Homo sapiens: one gene and its partners. The protein of the gene in region 1 purifies or fractionates together with the protein of each later gene. This does not show direct contact. Each region holds a gene or a part of one and is shown in the gene's direction. Other genes may lie near its edges. The genes, in order: AP3M1, RABL6 and AP3S2.

What was found.
Region 2: the proteins of AP3M1 (region 1) and RABL6 purify together in Homo sapiens (co-immunoprecipitation; 4 studies listed by BioGRID and IntAct, with this or other methods). This does not show direct contact.
Region 3: the proteins of AP3M1 (region 1) and AP3S2 purify together in Homo sapiens (co-immunoprecipitation; 4 studies listed by BioGRID and IntAct, with this or other methods). This does not show direct contact.

What each region holds. Positions count from the first base shown.
Region 1 is NC_000010.11:74,130,096-74,133,846, reverse strand, and holds part of AP3M1 (AP-3 complex subunit mu-1), read left to right. Parts: intron 1-3,751. UniProt on the Homo sapiens protein: Part of the AP-3 complex, an adaptor-related complex which is not clathrin-associated. The complex is associated with the Golgi region as well as more peripheral structures.
Region 2 is NC_000009.12:136,838,913-136,841,803, forward strand, and holds the end of RABL6 (rab-like protein 6), read left to right. Parts: coding exon 1-209; intron 210-309; coding exon 310-574; intron 575-781; coding exon 782-953; intron 954-1,241; coding exon 1,242-1,300; intron 1,301-1,409; coding exon 1,410-1,610; 3' UTR 1,611-2,275; downstream 2,276-2,891. UniProt on the Homo sapiens protein: May enhance cellular proliferation. May reduce growth inhibitory activity of CDKN2A.
Region 3 is NC_000015.10:89,873,334-89,877,084, reverse strand, and holds part of AP3S2 (AP-3 complex subunit sigma-2), read left to right. Parts: exon of another isoform or gene 1-292; intron 293-3,751. UniProt on the Homo sapiens protein: Part of the AP-3 complex, an adaptor-related complex which is not clathrin-associated. The complex is associated with the Golgi region as well as more peripheral structures.

The sequences.
Region 1 (3,751 bases):
CTGTCTCTACTAAAGATACAAAAAATTAGCCGGGCATGGTGGCGCGCACCTGTAATCCCAGCTACTCGGGAGGCTGAGGCAGGAAAATTGCTTGAACCCAGGAGGCAGAGGTTGCAATGAGACAAGATCATGCCATTGCACTCCAGCCTGGCTCTGTCTCAACAAAAAAAAAAAAAAGAAGAAGAAAGGAAAAGAAAATTGAAGTCCTTTGGCAGTATGGTTTCGGTGGAAAGGCATTCATTATCTGATGATTTTTAAATCTGTTTGTTTATTTATTTATTTATTTGAGACGGGGTCTCACACTGTTGTCCAGGCTGGAGTGCAATCACATGATCTTGGCTCACTGGAACCTTCACCTCCTGGATTCAAGCGATCCTGCTGCTTCAGCTTCCCAAGTAGCTGGGATTACAGGCATGAGCCACCACACCTGGCTAAATTTTTTTTTTTTTTTTGAGACGCAGTTTCACTCTTATTGCCCAGGGTGGAGTGCAATGGTGCAATCTCAGCTCACCGCAACCTCCGCCTCCCGGGTTCAAGCAGTTCTTCTGCCTCAGCCTCCCGAGTACCTGGGATTACAGGCATGCACCAGCATGCCCAGCTAATTTTGTGTTTTTGGTGGAGATGGGATTTCTCCACGTTGGTCAGGCTGGTCTCGAACTCCTGAACTTAGGTGATCTGCCCGTTTCGGCCTCCCAAAGTGTTAGGATTACAGGCGTGAGCCACCGCTCCCGGCCCTGGCTAATTTTTTGTATTTTTAGTAGAGACGGGGTTTCACAATGTTGGCCAGGCTGGTCTCAAGCTCCTAACCTCAAGTGATCCACCTGCCTTGGCCTCCCAAAGGGCTGGGATTACAGGCGTGAGCCACTGCACCTGGCCCATAAATCTGTTTATTTTGCCCATAGGTTACATATAATTTTCATAACCACTAGTTGAGGTCTGCCAAACATGTAAATCAGAACTCATAATGCCTTACTTTAAGCCAATTATTACCCTATGTACCTCTACCTCTTGCTATTTATTCCTTCTAACATTTATTGAAAATCTGCTATATACCATGCTTTTGCTACTACATTATGTGCAGTACTTCTGGTAAAAGCCCCTATCTGATTATTTTTCACTTTCTTTTTTTTTTTTAAGTACAGGGTCTTGCTCTTTTGCCTAGGCTGGAGTGCATTGGCGCAGTCCCTGCTTACTGTAGCCTTGACCTCCAGCTCATGTGATCCTCCTACCTCAAACTCCTGAGTAGCCTATAGTCCCAGCCAATCAGGAGGTACACGCCACACGCCACCATGCCTGGCTAACTTTTATTTGTTTTTTTTGTACAGACAGGGTCTCACCATGTTGCCCAGGCTGGTCTTGAACTCCTGGGCTCAATCAGTTTACCTACCTCAGCCTCCCAAAGTGCTGGGATTACAGGCATCAGCCACCACACCCAATCTGATTATCTTTTTAACCAGACAAAACAATAGTACTCTATAAGAATCGTAAAATTTTATTATTAAAAATAGCAGCCGGGCATGGTGGATCACGCCTGTAATTCCAGCACTTTGGGAGGCCGAGGCAGGCAGATCACTTGAGGTCAGGAGTTTGAGACCAGCCTGGCCAACATGGTAAAACCCCGTCTCTACTATAAATACAAAAATTAGCTGGGCGTGGTGGCAGGCGCCTGTAAACCCAGCTACTTGGGAGGCTGAGGCAGGAGAATTGCTTGACCCTGGGAGGCAGAGGTTGCAGTGAGCCAAGATTGCACCACTGCACTCCAGCCTGGGTGACAGAGTGAGACTCCATCTCTAAAAAAACAAAAAAAGAAAAAAGAAAAAAAATCTAGTCCTTCCTTTACATTTATTTTACACATAAGGAAAGCCCAGAAGGGTTAAGTGAACTGTTCCAGGTCACACAACTTGTTAATATGTAATGATGGCTTATTGTGAATTATAGTCAATATCTTCTCTTCCATGAGTCCCCTTTTCATTATAACATTCCATCTTATAGAATAATAGATTTTTGCCAGGCACGGTGGCTCACACCTGTAATCCCAGCACTTTGGGAGGCTTAGGCAGGAAGATCACTTGAGCCCAGGAGTTCAAGACCAGCCTAGGCAACATAGCAAGACCCCATATCTATCAAAAATTTAAAAGATTAGCTAGGCATGGCTTCCTTAATCCTACCTATTCAGAAGGCTGAGGCAGGAGGATTGCTTGAGCCCAGGAGTTCAATGCTGTGGTGAACTATGTTCACACCACTGTACTCCAGCCTGGATGGCAGAGGGAGACCCTGTCTCTTAAAAAAAAAGAGATATCTTTCTATTATGGATCCTATTTCTTAAAAGTTAACTTAGTCCATTTCATAATACACTTGCCACATTTTAAAATTCTATTGAAGCCGGGCGCGGTGGCTCACACCTGTAATCCCAGCACTTTAGGAGGCTGAGGCGGGTGGATCACGAGGTTAGGAGATCCAGACCATCCTGGCTAACACAGTGAAACCCCATCTCTACTAAAAATACAAAAAATTAGCTGGGTGTGGTGGCAGGCGCCTGTAGTCCCAGCTACTCGAGAGACTGAGGCAGGAGAATGGCGTGAACCCGGGAGACAGAGCTTGCAGTGAGCCCAGATAGCGCCACTGCACTCCATCCAGCCTGGGTGACAGAGCAAGACTCCGTCTCAAAAAAAAAATTAAAAAAAAATAAAATTCTATTGAAAATGGTTTTGGTTGGTTTGTTTTATTTTGTTTTTGAGACAGAGTCTCACATTGTCGCCCAGGCTGTAGTGCAGTGTTGTGGTTTCAGCTCACTGCAACCTCCGCCTTCTACGTTCAAGCGATTCTCCTGCCTCAGCCTCCCAAGTAGCTGGGACTACACGCACACACCACCACGCCTGGCTAATTTTTTGTATTTTTAGTAGAAACGGGGTTTTGCCATGTTGCCCAGGCTGGTCCCAAACTCCTGAGCTCAGATAATCTACCCACGTCAGCCTCCCTAAGTGCTAGGATTACAGGCATGAGCCACTGCGTCCTGCCAAATGTTTTAAACTCATATCCAGTCATCTTACAGGGTTGGCTCCATAAAGGAAACAGTTTAATTTTCCTTAGAATTAGCATATTCTGGCTGGGTATGGTAGCTCACACCTGTAATCCCAGCACTTTGGGAAGCTAAGGTAGGCGGATTGCTTGAGCCCAGAAGTTTGAGACCAGCCTGGGCAACATAACAAGACCCTGTCTCTACAAAAAAAATACAAAAATTAGCCAGGCGTGGAGGTGCATGCCTGTAGTACCAGCTGCTTGGGAGGCTGAGGTGGGAGGATTGCTTGAGCCCAGGAGGTTGAGGCTGGCTATCATAGCACCACTACGCTCCAGCCTGGGTGACAGAGCAAGACCCTGTCTCAAAAAAAAAAAAATTATATTCTACAGTGGCATACCTGTAGTCTCAGTTACTCTGGGGACCAGCTGGGACTAGCTAGTCAGACTTTATCTCTTAAAAATAAAAGAATTATTATTATATTCCAGCCAGAGTTAAGTATGGACCTTGTCCCCTGACCTGTTAATAGAGATGTAAAGCTTCAGTTAATCTGACACCCAGAGGGTATCTCTATTGTTCTAGATGTAGTGATTGTTGGGCTAGGTGTCATGGCACGCACCTATATTCCCAGCTATTTGGGAGGCTAGGGCAGGAGGATTACTTGAGCCCAGGAGTGAGGCTGCAGTGAGCTATGATCATACAACTGCACTCCAACCTTGGCAACAGAGCAAGACT
Region 2 (2,891 bases), on another chromosome or scaffold:
GGGGAGGCCCTGGGCGGCAACCCGATGGTGGCAGGGTTCCAGGACGATGTGGACCTCGAAGACCAGCCACGTGGGAGTCCCCCGCTGCCTGCAGGCCCCGTCCCCAGTCAAGACATCACTCTTTCGAGTGAGGAGGAAGCAGAAGTGGCAGCTCCCACAAAAGGCCCTGCCCCAGCTCCCCAGCAGTGCTCAGAGCCAGAGACCAAGTGGTAAGGGCAGGTGTCCCCACGGGTGCGGCCTGGAGACCCGGGTGGGGCAGTTCAGGACGCCTCCAGAGGACCCTGACTGACCCTCTGCTTGTCCACAAAGGTCCTCCATACCAGCTTCGAAGCCACGGAGGGGGACAGCTCCCACGAGGACCGCAGCACCCCCCTGGCCAGGCGGTGTCTCTGTTCGCACAGGTCCGGAGAAGCGCAGCAGCACCAGGCCCCCTGCTGAGATGGAGCCGGGGAAGGGTGAGCAGGCCTCCTCGTCGGAGAGTGACCCCGAGGGACCCATTGCTGCACAAATGCTGTCCTTCGTCATGGATGACCCCGACTTTGAGAGCGAGGGATCAGACACACAGCGCAGGGCGGTAAGACGAGTCCTCCCGGGGCAGAGGTCAGCCAGGTGGCCAGGGTCCCTCCCACAGGCCTGATCTGGGTGGGTGCAGTGGGAGGAGGCTTCTGGAAGAGGCATCTCATGTCCCCACACTTGGGCCTTGCCGGCCTGGTTTGAGATCCCACAACCCCTGGGGGTGTGGGAGGGATGATGGCCTGACCAGTTGCTCTCCCTGCTCCAGGATGACTTTCCCGTGCGAGATGACCCCTCCGATGTGACTGACGAGGATGAGGGCCCTGCCGAGCCGCCCCCACCCCCCAAGCTCCCTCTCCCCGCCTTCAGACTGAAGAATGACTCGGACCTCTTCGGGCTGGGGCTGGAGGAGGCCGGACCCAAGGAGAGCAGTGAGGAAGGTGGGTGGGGGCACCAGAGTGCGGTCAGCCTGCTGGAGTTTGGGTAGAACGTGGGCCTCCTCCCAGCTGCTGGCCGCTGGCCGGGGTCCTCTCCTGAGTCCAGGATGCTGTGCCATGCTCCTGGCAGCCCCCTGCAGGAGCTGATGTTTGCAGTGTGGTCCTGTCCATCAGCAGGGCCTCCTGGAGGGCTGGGGCTCGCTGCTTTGTGAGTTTCTAGAGAAGTCCTGTCACCCAGCTTGGGGTCCCCGTTGGCCTGAGTTTGAGCCACTGTCTGTCCTGTCTGTGCAGGTAAGGAGGGCAAAACCCCCTCTAAGGAGAAGAAGAAGAAGAAGAAAAAAGGCAAAGAGGTACTGGCTACTCCCCTTCCTGGCAGGCCAGGACTGGGTGGCATGCGGTCCTGGGACCAGGGCTGTGGCTTCCTGTGACTCCATGGCGCCCCATCCTTGTGCTCCTCAGGAAGAAGAAAAAGCTGCCAAGAAGAAGAGCAAACACAAGAAGAGCAAGGACAAGGAGGAGGGCAAGGAGGAGCGGCGACGGCGGCAGCAGCGGCCCCCGCGCAGCAGGGAGAGGACGGCTGCCGATGAGCTGGAGGCTTTCCTGGGGGGCGGGGCCCCGGGCGGCCGCCACCCTGGGGGTGGCGACTACGAGGAGCTCTAGGCCGGCGTGGGCAGTGGCCGCCCTGGGGCGGGGGGCGTGCCTGTCACTGCCTGGGGAGGCATTTGCCTCTGTACCATCGCCTTTGCCGCTGCCCCGTGGCTGCCGTGTGCGCTTCTGAGCTGGAAGAGGCCGGGCATTGGTGGTCCCCAGGCTGGGCCCTGCAGGTGCTGGGCCTTCAGGCCCAGTGTGAGCCTGCTCTGCAAGAAGGGAGGGGACAGCTGGCTTCAGCCAGGCTCGGTGGACACCCTGGCCCTCTCGGGGCAGAGCCGCCAGTGTTTCTCAGGGATGTGACTGAGGCCCAGGAGGGACCTGTGAGGGTCTGTTTACAGAGGCTGGGCAGGGGCCGCTTGGCTGTGGGGTGTGCGCTGCCCCGGCACCTGCTTGCCCTCCGCGCTCATCTGGGGCCGCAGCATGCCTATGGTTCCGCTTCCGGCCGGGAGCCCTGAACACGGGTGTGCAGACTCACCCTAAAGGGCGGCCCAGGCCCCACGCTAGAAGGCTGGCGAGACCGAAGGCAGCATGTGAGGCCTCTCCTGGGAGTGGGGGTTGTGTTTCCCACAGTGGCCTCAGCTGCGCCCCCGCTCAGGTGAGCCCGAAGGCAGGAGCCGGGAGGCACTCCTCCCAAACACTCCACTCAGACCATAAAGCACTCCTGTTTCACTCTGCGTGTGTCTGTTCTTCTGCCTGTACCTCTGCTCCCGCTGCCCCGGGCCCAGGCTGCCGTGGGTTGGCAGGAGGCTGCCCAGCAGTGGTGTGAGGACGTCCCACCAAGTCTGGCCACACCCTGGGTACATTCCAGCCCACCTGTGCCAGGGCTCAGCAGCTGCACGCAGCACGCTTGGCGACCTCAGCCCCAGGAGGTGGAAGTCCACTCTGCAAGGCTCCCAGGCAGCCGCCTGCAGCCCTGCCCCCCGCCTTCAGGCTCCTGCCCCCTCCAGCTGTCAGCAGCGCCCAGCCTCCACCCCCACAGCTACTGTTGCCATGAGAACCCTGCAGGGCAGGCAGGAAGAGTGTGCCAGTGAAGGGGAGGAGGTGGCCAAGCTGGAGGCTCCTCTGCCTGGGAGCCTTGTGGCCCCAGGGTGTTGGGCAGTCACTGCAGTCCCTGAGCAGGTGCTGTGGCCCACAGCAAGCTTAGCCTGGCCCCTTAGCCCACAGCCCATGAGGTCAGGGCCGGGTTCAGGGGTTCGCCTGGTGTGGGGATGGGTCGACAGTACGTGAACTTGACAGGATCACACCATGGACGGCTATGTTGGGGTTTCAGTGGGCCCTGCTTTGAACAGT
Region 3 (3,751 bases), on another chromosome or scaffold:
TGACATTTTGGTCCTTGTTTCCCAAAGTCATAGTTCAGCAGACGGGGAGTTTGCCCAGTTTTTCTTGCCTTGACTTTTTTCCTCTTGTTCAGCAAATTTCACTGGATTTCCAGCTGCTGTGTCATAATCCCTAGGTACAGCTGTTCTGTCTCTGCCAAAGCTGTTGCTTGCAGGGCTCCCATTTGAGCTGCCATAGCTATCTGAGTTACTGGCATTCCTGATGCCAACAGGGCAGCAACATTGAGAACAAAATCTCTAGTAACTGGAGCTATTTCTTGTTTTTGTTTTTCAATGATTTCTTTTTCTTTTAAAAAATTTTTTCCCAACACCCATCCCAACTATTTCTTTTTCTTGCTGTTCTTGTAATTTCTTTGCCTAGTCCATCCTCCCAGCTAAAGCTTCTTATGCATCCTTTGCTGTGCCTCTGCCTCTGAAGAGAGATGAACTGGAAATCTGGCTTAAACTTCTGCTAAATCTTAGTTTCTCAATGCTCTTCTTTCTCTCTTGTCTTCTGCTTCCTGTACTACTTCTGCTTCTTTCCTATGCATGTCATATTTATTTATTTACTTATTTTTCACACGCAACACAGATGTAGTTTTTATCTTGAACAGGAGCAAGATCTGATCCATGGTTTTCTTTCTTTCTTTTTTTTTTCTTTCCTTTTTGGAGACGGCGTCTCACTCTGTTGGCCAGGCTGGAGTGCAGTGGTGTGACCTCAGCTCACTGAAACCTCCACCTCCTGGGTTCAAGTGATTCTCCTGCCTCAGCCTCCCAAGTAGCTGGGACCTCAGACATGCATCACCACGCCTGGCTAATTTTTGCATTTTTAGTAGAGACAGGGTTTTGCCATGTTGGCCAGGTTGGTCTCAAACTCCTGAATCTCAGGTGATCTGCCTGACTTGGCCTCCCAAAGTGCTGGGATTACAGGTGTGAAGCACCATGTCCAGCCCATGGTTTTCTTTTCCTGCTTCTAGATCATGATCGTTCTTCTCTCTGCTTCTGGATTGAGACTACTTCTTTTCCCTCTACTACGATGATGCCTTTCACGAGACCTGTATCTTGAGTGACTTCTGCTTCTTGATGGCTTTCTTTGTGTTTGTGTCTGTCCTCATCATTTTCAGATGAATGTATTTATTTATTGAGACAGCATGTCACTCTGTTGCCCAGGCTGGAGTGCAGTGGCACAATCACAGCTCACTGTAACCTCTGTCTCCCCGGCTCAAGCTTCTCACCACAGCCTCCCGAGTAGCTGGAATCACAGGCACACACCACCACGCCTGGCTAACTTTTGTGTTTTTTATAGAGACAGGGCTTTGCCATGTTGCTCAAGCTGGTCTCAAACTTGTGAGCCCAAGCAATTTGCCCACCTTGGCCTTCCGAAGTACTGAGACTACAGACGTGAGTCACTGCGCCCAGCCCATTTTCAGATGAATTTAGTCCCTCTCTTCCTTTATCAGAATAATGTTCTTTGTCATTATGCTCCTCAGAAGTGTATTTCTTAGAGGATTTGTTGTAGGATTCCTGTCTTCTTGCCTCATCATGAAATAGGCTTATTATTTTCCTACCTGAGTCTGCAATGTCTTCAGTTCAGCCTCTTTGCCCATCAGCATGCGCTTTGTGTTTTCGTCCTTCGTTTTCTTTCTTGTTTTCTTTCTCTTGACCTTGATTGTGATCTTGAATAATATTTTGAGTAAGAAAAACAGATGCATCTGACAGTTCTTTTTCCACCCACTATCTGGGGATGTCTTTTTCTGGGGCTAGTCCATCTTGTCCTGGATAACTACCCTATCTTGAGAACCCAGTCTTAGTTTCATGAAACATCTTTAATGAAAACAGCCTTTTGGGATGGTGCTGCTGCAAACTGTGGTCTGGCTCTCCTCGCATGTGCTCTGGCTGCCGCAGAACAGAGCTCAGGCCGCTAGGGGGCACCTCCACGTGCCGCTTTTAGCAGTACCAGCCACCTCAAAGCTTTGCCACAGACTGAATAGCTCCTTCCGGGGGCCTGGATGGCACCCAGGGGATCTGCCGTTGCTTTTTTAATTTATTTTTTTACATTTAGCTCATTAATATCTGTTAGATATTTTTATGTCTGCATTGAAATATGTAACTTTATTTTTCCCCCAAAGGATAACTGTTCCAACATTATCAGTTAGCTTGTCTTTTCCCCACCAACTTAAAATACGACTCTTATTTTTAAAATTGCATTTTATAAACATGTATGTTTCAGTAATTTATATTCTGCCCCACTGATCTATATTCCCATCTTAGAATTATACTTTTATTTTATTTTTAAAATTTATTTAGAGACAAGGTCTTGGTATGTCACTCAGGCTGGAATGCAGTGGTGCAATGATAATTCACTGCAACCTTGAATTCCTGGGCTCAAGCAATCCTCCCACCTCAGCCTTCCAAGTAGCTGGGACTACAGGTGTGTGCCACTATGCCTGGCTAATTTTTTTATTTTTATTTTTTTGTGGAGACGATGTTTTGCTATGTTGCCCAGGCTGGTCTCAAACTCCTGGGCTCGAGGGATCTTCCTGTCTTGGCTGCCCAAAGTGTTGGGATTATAGGCATGAGCCACCTCACCCAGCCTTAGTATTATACTATTTTAGTTAACAAAGCTTTACAATGAATTTTGATACCTAGAAAGACTGCACCCAGGTGAAATAAACAGCCTTGTTTCTCACACAAAGCCTGTTTGGTGGTCTCTTCACATGGACACGTGAGACAGATTTCGCTAGGGAAGCAAATAACCATGGAGGTGGGCAAGAAATATCCATGATTGTAGAGCTTTCAATCAGCCTTTTATTCTTGTAACAAATGAAAAACAAAGGATTATCAGACATCTGCGGAAAACCTCTAACATAGAAGAAGGAGATAAAATGAACAAACAATAAAAAGCAACTTAAAAATGGACACCATATAAAGAAAGGAAAACAGTTTAAAAAAAAAAAAAACCCAAAACCCTATTCTTAAGCTACAGAGAAAGCCTGGCCAACATGGTGAAACCCTATCTCTACTAAAAATACGAAGTATTTTAGCCAGGCATGGTGGCACATACCTGTAGTCCCAGCTGCTCAGGAGGCTGAGGCAGGAGAATCACCTGCACCCGGGAGGCTGAGGCTGCAGTGTTCTGAGATCACACCACAGCACTCCAGCCTGGGTGACAGAGTGAGACCTTGTCTCAAAAAAAAAAAAAAAAAAAAAAGCCACAGAGAAATAAGACATTTATTTTAAATAATAATAAGACCCATTTATTAATTAGAAATAAAATAAGACCCATTTATGTCTTATTGCTAAATGGGTGCTAAACAAAAACACTCACAGCCTTGTTGCTCACACAAAATGAACAAAATGGTCTCTTAGAAATAAAAAATGAGAGGAAATGGAAACAAACAAAAACCCACTTCAACTGAAGTATTAGAAAATCAAGTTAATCAATTGTCTCAGAATGGGCAGAGATGGAAAATGGGAGAGAAAAGATGAGAAAATAAGACAGAGGCCGGGCACAGTGGCTCACGTCTGTAACCCCAGCACTTTGGTAGGCCAAGACAGGGGGATCACTTAAGGTCAGGAATTGGATATCAGCCTGGCCAACATGGTGAAACCTCGTCTCTACTAAAAATACAAAAATTAGCCAGGCGTGGTGGTGCATGCCTGTAATCCCAGCTACTCAGGAGGCTGAGGCAGGAGAATTGCTTGAACCCAGGAGGCAGAGGCTGCAGTGAGCCAAGATCGTGGCACTGCACTT